2 separate regions of the Homo sapiens genome follow, and region 2 is linked to region 1. A link means that fine-mapping ties the variant in region 1 to the expression of a gene that starts in the linked region. Tissue or cell type: whole blood. Region 1 holds a variant in brackets; the other region holds the start of a gene. Each region is shown on its reference strand, or each on the opposite one. Region 1 has its middle 170 kb from the start of LINC02335. Region 2 holds the start of SNAPIN (SNAP associated protein).

Region 1 (5,382 bases):
TCCTAAGTGTCCTAAGATTATCTGTATTACTTCAGCAATTGTCTTCTCTTTACTTCCCATTCACCATTCAACCCACTCTAAAATGAGTTCTGGTTTCACAACAATTTCCCCAAAGCAGTCCCACCAATGTCTCCATTGATAACTATTATTTGTCATTTACAGCATTATACCAGCATGACTTATATATTTTCACCCCTACTTTTCTCTCTAGTCTCATCTCAGGCATCATAAAGAGCCTTATTGCAGTCTGACCCTTCTTTCCACTGTCCACTTCAGTTATGTTTTTAAGTCTCTTTTACATCCATGGATGCTTGTGTTTAAATTTGACTTACATGGCTCCAACATTCCTAAAATTTTCCCAGTTTCTCACTGGGCTTTAGATAAAGAACGAGATCCTTAAACTGACTGGCCAGGCGCTACACACTGTGGCCCTTCAGCATCGCCAGTTTCATCCACTTGCTCTCCTTCTCTCTCCCACACTGGCCTTCCTTCATTTCTTGGAAGATGACTTGTGCATCAATATGGGGTTCTGGCTCATGCTAGTTTCTTCTTGAGCAGGTTTATCTTAGTACATCCACTTGTCTAATTAAGTCATACTTGACTTGAGGTAGTAGTTAAATTCTAATATATGTTGGACACCTTCCCTAATCCTCTAAACTGGGTCATTTTTCTCAGTTATATTTTTAGTAGAATCATGTTTCCTACTGCCCTATGCCACATGTTGTGTAGAAAGTAGCTCAGTTGATCATTATACAAGAAGTCATGCCATCATTTGATTAACATCTATCTAAAGTATGTATTTAAATCTTTGTCTAAATTTCATTTTTTTTGTATTATTTGATTAACATCTACATGAACTGTAATCCTCATGAGAGTTGATGTTTTGTTTTATTATTCTTTTTTTGTATTTGTAGATATGGGGTTTTACCATGTTGCCCAGACTGGTCTGGAACTGGAACTCCTAAACAATCTGTCTGCCTTGACCTCACAAAGAGCTGGGATTACTGGCATGAGTCACTGCCTGCCACCAAATGCTTTTTTTTTTTTTCAGTATTTTGTTTCTTGGTGCCACACACATAGTAGGGGCTCCAAAATTATTTTTGATCACCTCTGATATCATTAAGAGGTATGAACTTATTCCCACCGAGCATGAGACCAGCAGAACTTGTTTTCTGGTCACAACTGTGCTGACCAAAACAGTGTCTGGTCCAGAGGATGAAGTAAAGAAATTGGCAGCTACCAGCGGGTGATGTGGAAAGCAATCCCTAGCTCCCCTTATTGCTCATTAGCATAGGACACTCCCAACAACACCATCACAGTTTACAAATGCCATGGCAATGACCCAGAAGTTACCACTCCTTTCCATGGCATTGACCCAGAAGTTACCAACCCTTTCCTAGCAAGCTCTAGATAACCCACCCTTCTATTTGCACTGACGGACTCCTTAATTTGCATGTAATTGAAAGTGGCTTTATGTGAGTAGAAAAGCAATTGCCCAAAGCCCAGTGGTTGACCCACTCCGGGTGCATGGCCTATGAGTTAGCCCTGCTTCTCAAGGGAGCAGTACAGTGCAATAAAAGATTGCTGTCTAATACCAGTGGCTCATCCTTGAATTATTTTTTGGACTAAGCCCCAATTCTCAGGCTCCTCTGTTTTGCGACATCACAAGCTAATTGCAGTTAACTACTCAAAATGCTTTCTTTTGGTAAATTGGAAATATGCTCAATTATAGATATAGGGATTGTTGTAATTTGTTGTCACAATTATAGCTTGTGCATTAGAAAAAAGCCTAAAGACTGATAAAAGTATTGATAATTCTGTGGTTTTCCTCCAATTTTCTAAGTCCTAACCAAACCTAGGTTAGTTATGTTGGAATCTAGTTTCAACTTAAAGCCATTTCTTGACTAAGAAGAAATAAACTTTACCAAACATTGATAGTACTATACCATACCAATGTTATTAAGATTTCCTAAAGGAATAAGAAGCTAATAATTTTAAATATATACTCTAAATGCTCACTAGTGTCAGTGTGTGCATGTGTGTGTAAAAGAGCATGTGCATACATTTTACTTCATCTAATTTCTTTTTGTCTTAACATTGCTCTCTGGAATAAGAACTATTTACAAAAGTCATTCATTTCCTCCTCTTTTTTGCTGTTATTGTTGTTATATTTCACTTCCAAGATACAATTAAGCCATCTATATAAGCAGGAAAAAACATGTCAGGGCTATAAAGAAGTCCTTAAAAAGAGTGATACAAGCAGAAAACTGATTTGTTTTCATGAGTTTTAAATAGTTGAAGGATATGATAAAAGTGCAGACTTGATAATTTAAAAGTATGTTCCCATTAACAGCCTTAGCTTTTATCAGAGCTTTAGTGCTTAGGGCTTGCTTTGATTTTCTGAATTTTAACAAGCATAAATTATATTTCCATTTGATCACTATCATGGACACTAGGTTTTTAAAACAAGTCTTTGTGGACATCATCATTTTCAGAAATTTTGTATCTGCTGTTGTGTAAAACCGATTATGTGATCTACAATCTCCACATGCGATTCTTGATTGTTACTCAAC[A/G]TGTCAGAAATATTTAATGAAACCTTTTAGAAATAGCAAACCACATATGTAAGGAGAATCTGAACATGTTTAGCACTTGTAACATCTGAATGTTTATGGATGTAAAAAAATTATCCCCTAGGAAATACGTTGCTTAGATAGGGAGGTTTTAACTTCAGCAAGTAGACTTTATAAACAGATGGGATCACAGTCATTTCTATTTCAGGACACCATGTCATTCTGTATGTGCCACCATGCTACAGCAGTTTCTTCCCACCAGCCTAGTCACGTCAGTCATTCACCTTCTGGTACTTCAGGGTTTCATTAGCTCATAGCTGCCTGACCTTGTGATGGGTGCAAGTCGACAGGTAGTTCATAACCCTTTGCTGTCAGAATTAGCATTCATGATACTACTTAAACTGTGCTGCCAATTTAGAGTTCGTTATTAAATGGGGCATATGTTACTACACTTATAACTGATTTGATCTATTTATTTTTAGTTTGACCTTTTTTTTATTCATCAAATCAGTTTTGAAATAGACATTGAAGTACCCTTCATTATAAAAATTTCTGTGGCTGATATTTTATATGGAGTTTTCCAGATTCTGAGTTGTTCCATGATAAATGTTAGATTTCAATGTTAGTTTAAACAAAAGTGAAGTAAGCATGGGTCCCCAGGATATTGACGAACGCTTTTTTTCAACCCTGCAACAGCTTTACACTCCAAGTATAACTGAATTTGAAAGCATACACCTTCCTTTCAGTATCAAAAGTGACAAAAGTAGAACTAGGAAAAACAATGTATATTATGAATTATTTTACATCGTTAATTCTTTTCTGACTCTCTCTACCCTTCCCGCATTAATCTAGCATTGAAAAATATCGAACCCAAAAATATAGATAATATTCAATACAAAGTACTATATTTTTTCTTAAAAATAGCTGAAACACATTTTACTATTTCAATTAGAAATTTCAAAAGCACGATTCTTAGAAATATGATTGAAGAAAGAAAACAGTACTGAAAGAACATTGTTTCATAGAGAGTGAAGTCTAAGAACAATAGGAATAAAGGCAAAAGCAGTAGATGCAAATCTTAAAGGGTACTTTTGGTCTTCTCTTACTCAGCAAAATTCATTGCTGGTGCTATGGGGAAGTGTAGAATTTTGTAATGATTCCTTACTTTACAAATTGTATAGATTTATACATGTGAAATGACAGATGATGTGTGATAGAAGTTTCATGCATCTAATTATCTTATTACTTCTTTTCTTCATTTACTATTATTTTACAGCAATTTTAATATAATAATGTGGATACTATGCCATATTCATTAACAAATGAACCCAAGGATGATGTTTGTAGCATAGGGAAATTCAAAATGAAAGGTTTTTTTTTAGATGCTGTAGGTTAATTTTTTAAGAAATAAGCAATAGAGAGTACTTTAAAAGGTAGCTTTTCCTGCAACATCATAATGACCCTATGTCAATGTGGGCTTATTGAAGTCAGATCATAATACAAATGTTACTATATATAAAAGGTCAATGGCATGCCTTTTCTGTTTTCTTTACCTGCAAAGTCGCCAGTCAGTGACATATTGTCTGATTTCAAATGTGCAAGATTTCCTTGAATTTCTGATAATGTATTGGCCATTAGGTTGGCTACATATATAGAAGAAGAATTTATCAATTCCAAGCATGACATTGAAGGGATAACTTGAATTCAGAATTTTACTTTTGCTGATTTTCTCTTTTAACTATTTTTGTGGGCCTGATTAAATCTTTAAAATCTCTATTATTCTTCTAACTGTTTACAAGAAATTGACAATTTTTGGTATTTTGTCACACCAGATCTTGGAGCATCTGTAACACTGGAGTATCTTTAAATGAAGGAATCAATAATTATAATATCAAAACTGCAACTGGATTGGTAACTAGATTCCATAAGTTATCATACATACAGTGAGCTGGTCTTGCCATATATAGCTGTAAGTGTAAAAATTAACTGGATGCTTTAAAACATTAGTCTCCAACCTTTCGGCTTCCCTTGGCCACATTGGAAGAAGAAGACTTGTCCTGGGCCACACATAAAATACACTAACGTAACGATAGCTGATGAGTTAAAAAAAAAAAAGTCCATGCATCATTTTCATGATATCCACCACCACAAATAAGCAAAAAAAGTCCTCAAGTTTAAAGGGCTGGAAACAGCTGCTTTAAAAGTTACTGAGATACGAAAAAGTATCAGCAAAACAATTAAATAGTAATAACTAAGCTGCTCCTTTGAACTTGATTTGAGAGGGTTAAAGGATAATCATATAAATGATTTCAACACTTTCGCTTTTAAGGGCATTTATATTTTTTCCACTGGTCAGTTCTCCGTCCTCTCCTTGCAGGGTTTACTGTCTGATATTTCTTTCTGTATTATTATTCCTCTTCATTTATAATGCAAGCTTCCATAGACTCACAAAAACTAAAATCTAATGGGCACAGGTCCACTCCTCAGAACGCTGCACATTTGCAATTCCTGTATTTACTTACCCTTTTGGGAAGCCTATGTTCACTCCAGGCTCTTAGTTCCTTTCACATCCATCTGAACAACAACTACAAAATGATGTTTTGATATACCACAAGAATTTAAGAGAGTGCCCTGAGAATCGGGCTACCTTTATCTTAGCCCTTTTACTCTAACTTTGGGAGAGATTCAAAAGCAAAGCCTTTGGTTTCACTTAGATACAATGTTGGCAAAAATAGAGTAAATCAAGTACTAAGAAGGGTAAAGTGCATCATATAATTGTCATACTGGAATCTAATGTCATACTTTCAGAGAT
Region 2 (5,359 bases), not on the chromosome of region 1:
TCCCAAGGCCTGACTGTGAAGCAGGTTGCAGTTGCCTTGCCACTTACTCCCAAAATAAGCTCCTAGCCTCTCGCAAGAGCTTTACCTCTAATCACCAGAGAGGAAGATACAGGGATACAAACGTAATCAACGACAAAAAGTGTATAAGGTGGTTTTTGGTGTGTGTGTGTGTGAGACAGAGTCTTGCTCTTTCACCCAGGCTGGAGTGCAGTGGCATGATCACAGCTCACTGCAACCTCTACCTCCCAGGCTCAAGTGATCCTCCCACCTCAGCCTCTCGAGTAGCAGGAACTACAGGTGTGTGCCACCATGCCCAGTTATTTTTTTTATTAATTTTTTTGTAGAGATGGGAGTCTCCCTATGTTGCACAGGCCGGTCTTGAACTCCTGGCTTCAAGCAATCCTCCCGCCTCAGCCTCCCAAAGTGGTGGGATTACAGGCATGAGCCACCCCACCCAGTGTAAGTGTATAAGGTTTTAAAAGTTATCACAGTTGGGGCTGGGCTTGGTGGCTCACGCCTGTAATCCCAGCACTTTGGGAGGCCGAGGTGGGAGGACTGCTTGATGCAGGAGTTCAAGACCAGCCTGGGCAACATAGGGAGGCCTCGTCTCTACAAAAAATAATAATAAAAAAAAAGTTATCACAGTTGGGGTCTTAGGTTTAGAGCTGCTGACCACCAAATCTCACAGTGATTCAAATGCCTTATCTTCCTTTATTACTGAAGATGAAGCTCAAAGCTGAACGTTCTGGTGCCCATTTATCACTATGGATGCCTTTGCCTGTCCTCCAGGAGCATTTCTGCTCATACATCCTTCCCCATGGCCTAGGGAATTGGGAGCCACGGGAACACATTAGAGCCTAGGAGACAGATGTAAATTATCTGGAAAGCCATGAAAAACCAAACCGAACTAAACTAAGGAAGGAATCATTGTCTTCATAATTCTCAGGGAAAAAGAAAACCATGGAAGGGTGTCTTGAGGCCAGGAGTTCGAGAACAGCCTGGGCAACATAGGGAGACCCTGCCTGTACCAAAAAAATTTAAAAAATTAGCCAGGCATGGGGGCAGGTGACTGTAGTCCCAGTTACTTAGGAGGCTGAGGCAGGAGGATGGCTCGAGCCCAGAAGTTTGAGGTTACAGTGAGCTATGATAACATCACTGCACTCCAGCCTCAGCAACAGAGTGAGACCTTGTCTCTAAAAATGAAAGGAAAAATAAGTGAACTAAGGAAACTTTAAAATTTATTTTTATGGCCGGGCGCGGTGGCTCATGCCTGTAATCCTAGCACTTTGGAAGGCCGAGGCGGGTGGATCACGAGGTCAGGAGATCGAGACCATCCCGGCTAACGTGGTGAAACCCCATCTCTACTAAAAATACAAAAAATTAGCCGGGCGTGGTGGTGGGCGCCTGTAGTCCCAGCTACTCGGGAGGCTGAAGCAGGAGAATGGCATGAACCCGGGAGGCGGAGCTTGCAGTGAGCGAGATTGCACCACTGCACTCCAGCCTGGGTGACAGAGCAAGACTCGGTCTCAAAAAAAAATTTTTTTTAATTTTTATTTTTTGAGACAGGGTCTCACCCTGTCACCCAGGCTGAAGTGCATGCAGTGCCACGATCTTGGCTCACTGTAGCCTCAACTTCCTAGGCTCAAGGTCCTCCTACTTCAGCCTCCCAAGTAGCGGGGACCACAGCTGTGAGCCACCATGCCTGGCTAATTTTTTTTTTTTTTTTTTTTTTTGAGATGGAGTCTCGCTCTGTCGCCCAGGCTGGAGTGCAGTGGCGCGATCAGGGCTCACTGCAAGCTCTGCCTCCCGGGTTCACGCCATTCTCCTGCCTCAGCCTCCCGAGTAGCTGGGACTACAGGAGTCCGCCACTGCGCCCGGCTAATTGTTTGTATTTTTAGTAGAGATGGGGTTTCACCGTGGTCTCGATGTCCTGACCTCGTGATCCACCCGCCTCGGCCTCCCAAAGTGCTGGGATTACAGGCGTGAGCCACTGCGCCTGGCCGCCTGGCTAATTTTTTATTTCCTGTAGAGACAGAGTCTCACTAGGTTTGTTGCCCAGACTGATCTCGAACTCCTGGGCTCAGGTGATCCTCCCGCCTCAGCCTCCCAAAGTGCTGGGATTACAGGAGTGAGCCACCATGCCCTGCCTGCATGTTTATATTATTCAGCCTTAAAAAGGAATGAAATTCGGATACATGCAGTTTTTTACATATTTAATGCCATTAAAAATATACTCTTTAGAAATAGACCAGGCGTGGTGGCTCACGTCTGTAATCCCAGCACTTTAGGAGGCTGAGTTGGGAGGATCACCTGAGCCCAGGAGTTCGAGACCAGTCTGGGCAACAAACATAGTGAGACCTCTTCTCTACAGAAAATGAAAAATTAGTCAGGCATGGTGGCTAACACCTGTGGTCCCTGCTACTTGGGAGACTGAAGCAGGAGGACCTCTTGACCCCAGGAGGTGAAGGCTACAGTGAGCCAAGACGGTGGCACTGCACTCCAGCCTAGGCGACAGAGAGAGACCTTGTCTTAAAAACAACCAACCACAATAAACTCTTTAGAAATAGAAAACGATACTATGAATATAATGTGGCTTTCTCATAAAGTGTTTTTGTTTTTGGTTTGTTTTTGTTTGGTTTGGGTTGCTTTTTTTTTTTTTTTTTTTTTTTTTGAGGCGGAGTCTCTCTGTTGCCCAGACTGGAGTGCAGTGGCGCGATCTCGGCTCACTGCAATCTCCGCCTCCCGGGTTCAAGCGGTTCTCCTGCCTCAGTCTCCCAAGTAGCTGGGTGCCCGCCACCATGCCCGGCTATCTCATAAAGTTAACATGGGAAGGCTATGGACAACTGCAGGTATTCGCGTTTATTTTCACCTTTAAAGAAAACGAAAAGTATCCACTCCAAAAACTGGTTCCTTTCTACAACCTGAACTTTGGAGATTTTCAAGACCAGCCACAAGGCCTCTACTCCTACGGCCTGGCCCTCCTCCCCGCCCGGTTCGCGCTAGACTCCATTTCCCAGAAACCCCGGTGTCTTGGTGGAGACAGCATTTCCCGGGCGCCCCCTCACGGGGCGGGGCAGTGCGGCGCGGCTCCGGTTCCCGGCGGCCCTCGCGGCAGGTTTCGGGCTTCAGGACAATTCGTGATGGCGGGGGCTGGTTCCGCCGCTGTATCGGGGGCAGGGACCCCGGTGGCGGGGCCCACAGGCCGCGACCTTTTCGCCGAAGGGCTGCTGGAGTTCCTGCGACCCGCTGTGCAGCAGCTCGACTCTCACGTACACGCCGTCAGGTGCCCGGGAGGGAAGTTGGGGGCGGGGCCTGTCTCTCTGGCTTTGTAGGGGCGGGGCCAAGAAAGTGTTCTGGCTGGGAGTGGGCATAAATTTAGGAAACTGATTCGAGGCGGGGAGGACAGGCGGGAAGGCCGCAGGTGGAGGGTTCAGCGGAGGCCGGCTTCTCTCAGTACTTGGTAAATACGTAGGGGAGTTCGTTTCCTGAGCTCCGGTAACTGCCTGACCTTGTAGGCCTTGTACCTCTTTGCAGAGAGAGCCAGGTAGAGCTCCGGGAACAAATTGACAACCTAGCCACAGGTGAGTGAGCATCCCTGTGTACCCGGAATTCTTCAGCCCACTTTCAGGACCTTAGGTTTTTGCCAACCCCTGGGCTGAGTTTCTGTCACTTGCTTCCAGGGCATCAGGGCTGCCAAAGGACTCCTCCTTTCAGGGATGTCTTAAATCTCTAATGGCTGTGGCCCGTTTGGGTGCAAGTGTTTTCCATCCCATTACCAGCCTGCTTTCCCTCAGAACAAGAGATAAGCCGTTAGATCTTAGCTGCACCTTACTTCCATCCCCAGAACTGTGCCGCATAAATGAGGATCAGAAGGTGGCCCTGGATCTTGACCCCTATGTTAAGAAGCTACTTAATGCCCGGCGACGCGTTGTCTTGGTTAACAACATTCTACAGAATGCTCAGGTAAAAGAATATCTTACCAACAGTGATTCTTTGCCCTTTTTTGTAAGTCCTCAACACAGTGAAAGCCACTGTAATTTTAAAATTCTTTGGGGAAAGGGAAATTCACTTCTCCCAGTACTTGAAAAATACCTAGGAAAATTCGTCTCATTCTCACTATTCAGTTGCTGCCATTTACATTCTTGTGTGTGTGTGTGTGACAGTCTCCCTCTGTCACCCAGGCTGGAGTGCGGTGGCTCAATCTCAGCTCGCTGCAACCTCCGCCCCCTGGGCTCAAGCAATTCTGCCTCCGCCTCCCGAGTAACTAGGACTACAAGCGTGCACAACGCCCAGCTAATTTTTGTATTTTTTTGTAGAAGTAGGGTTTCTCCATGTTGCCCAGGCTGGTCTGGAACTCCTGGGCTCAAGTGAGCTTCCCACCTTGGCCACCCGAAGTGCTGAGACTACAGGAGTGAACCACCACACCTGGCTATTTATTTTTATGATACAAGGTCTATCACCCAGGATGGAGTGCAGTGGCATGATAAAGGCTCACTGCAGCCTCTACCTCCCAGGCTCAAGCGATCCATCCACCTCAGCCTCCCAAGTAGCTGGGACTACAGGCATGCACCACCATGTCCAGCTAATTTTTGTATTTTTTCTAGAGACAGGGTTTCACCATGTTACCCAGGCTGGTCCCAAACTCCTGCATGCGAGTGATCCACCTGCCTGGGCCTCCCAAAACGCTGGGATTACAGGCGTGAGCCACTGCACCCGGCCTGCCTGGCCTTTTTTTTTTTTTTTTTAAATAAAAAGACAGGATCGGCTGGGCGCGGTGGCTCTTGCCTGTAATCCCAGCAGTTTGGGAGGCCGAGGTGGACAGGTCACCTGAGGTTGGGAGTTGGAGACCAGCCTGACCAACATAGAGAAACCCCGTCTCTACTAAAAATACAAAATTAGCTGGGCGTGGTAGCGCATGCCTGTAATCCCAGCTACTTGGGAGGCTGAGACAGAAGAATCACTTGAGCCCGGGGGACGGAGGTTGCGGTGAGCTGAGATCGCACCATTGCACTTCAGCCTGGGCAACAAGAGCGAAACTCCGTCTCGGGAAAAAAAAAAAAAAAAAAAAAAGACAGGCTATCACTATGGTGCCCAGGCTGTTCTCAAACTGGGCTCAAGTGATCTTCCTGCCACTTCCTCCTAAATGGTGCTGGGATAGGCATGAGCACCATGCCTGGCCTACATTTTTTTTTTTTTTTGAGATGGAGTTCTCCCTCTGTCACCCAGGCTAGAGTGCAGTGGCACGATCTCATTTCATTGCAACCTCCACCTCCCGGTTTCAAGCGATTCTCCTGCCTCAGATTACAAGCACCCGCCACCATGCCCAGCTAATTTTTTTGTATTTTTTAGTAGAGACGGG

What was found.
Region 2: it holds the start of SNAPIN, and the variant in region 1 is fine-mapped to the expression of SNAPIN in whole blood (TOPMed, PIP 0.90).

What each region holds. Positions count from the first base shown.
Region 1 is chr13:54,883,572-54,888,953 of GRCh38, forward strand. No RefSeq gene overlaps it. Among named protein-coding and RNA genes, the nearest start is that of LINC02335, 170 kb to the right of the region's middle. The variant A/G (reference allele first, on the strand shown) is at 2,574.
Region 2 is chr1:153,655,604-153,660,962 of GRCh38, forward strand. SNAPIN (SNAP associated protein) reads left to right here and starts at 3,100. Exons shown (of 4, transcript NM_012437.6): 1 at 3,100-3,283; 2 at 3,535-3,581; 3 at 3,845-3,963. The coding sequence starts at 3,141. RefSeq lists an enhancer at 2,866-2,945.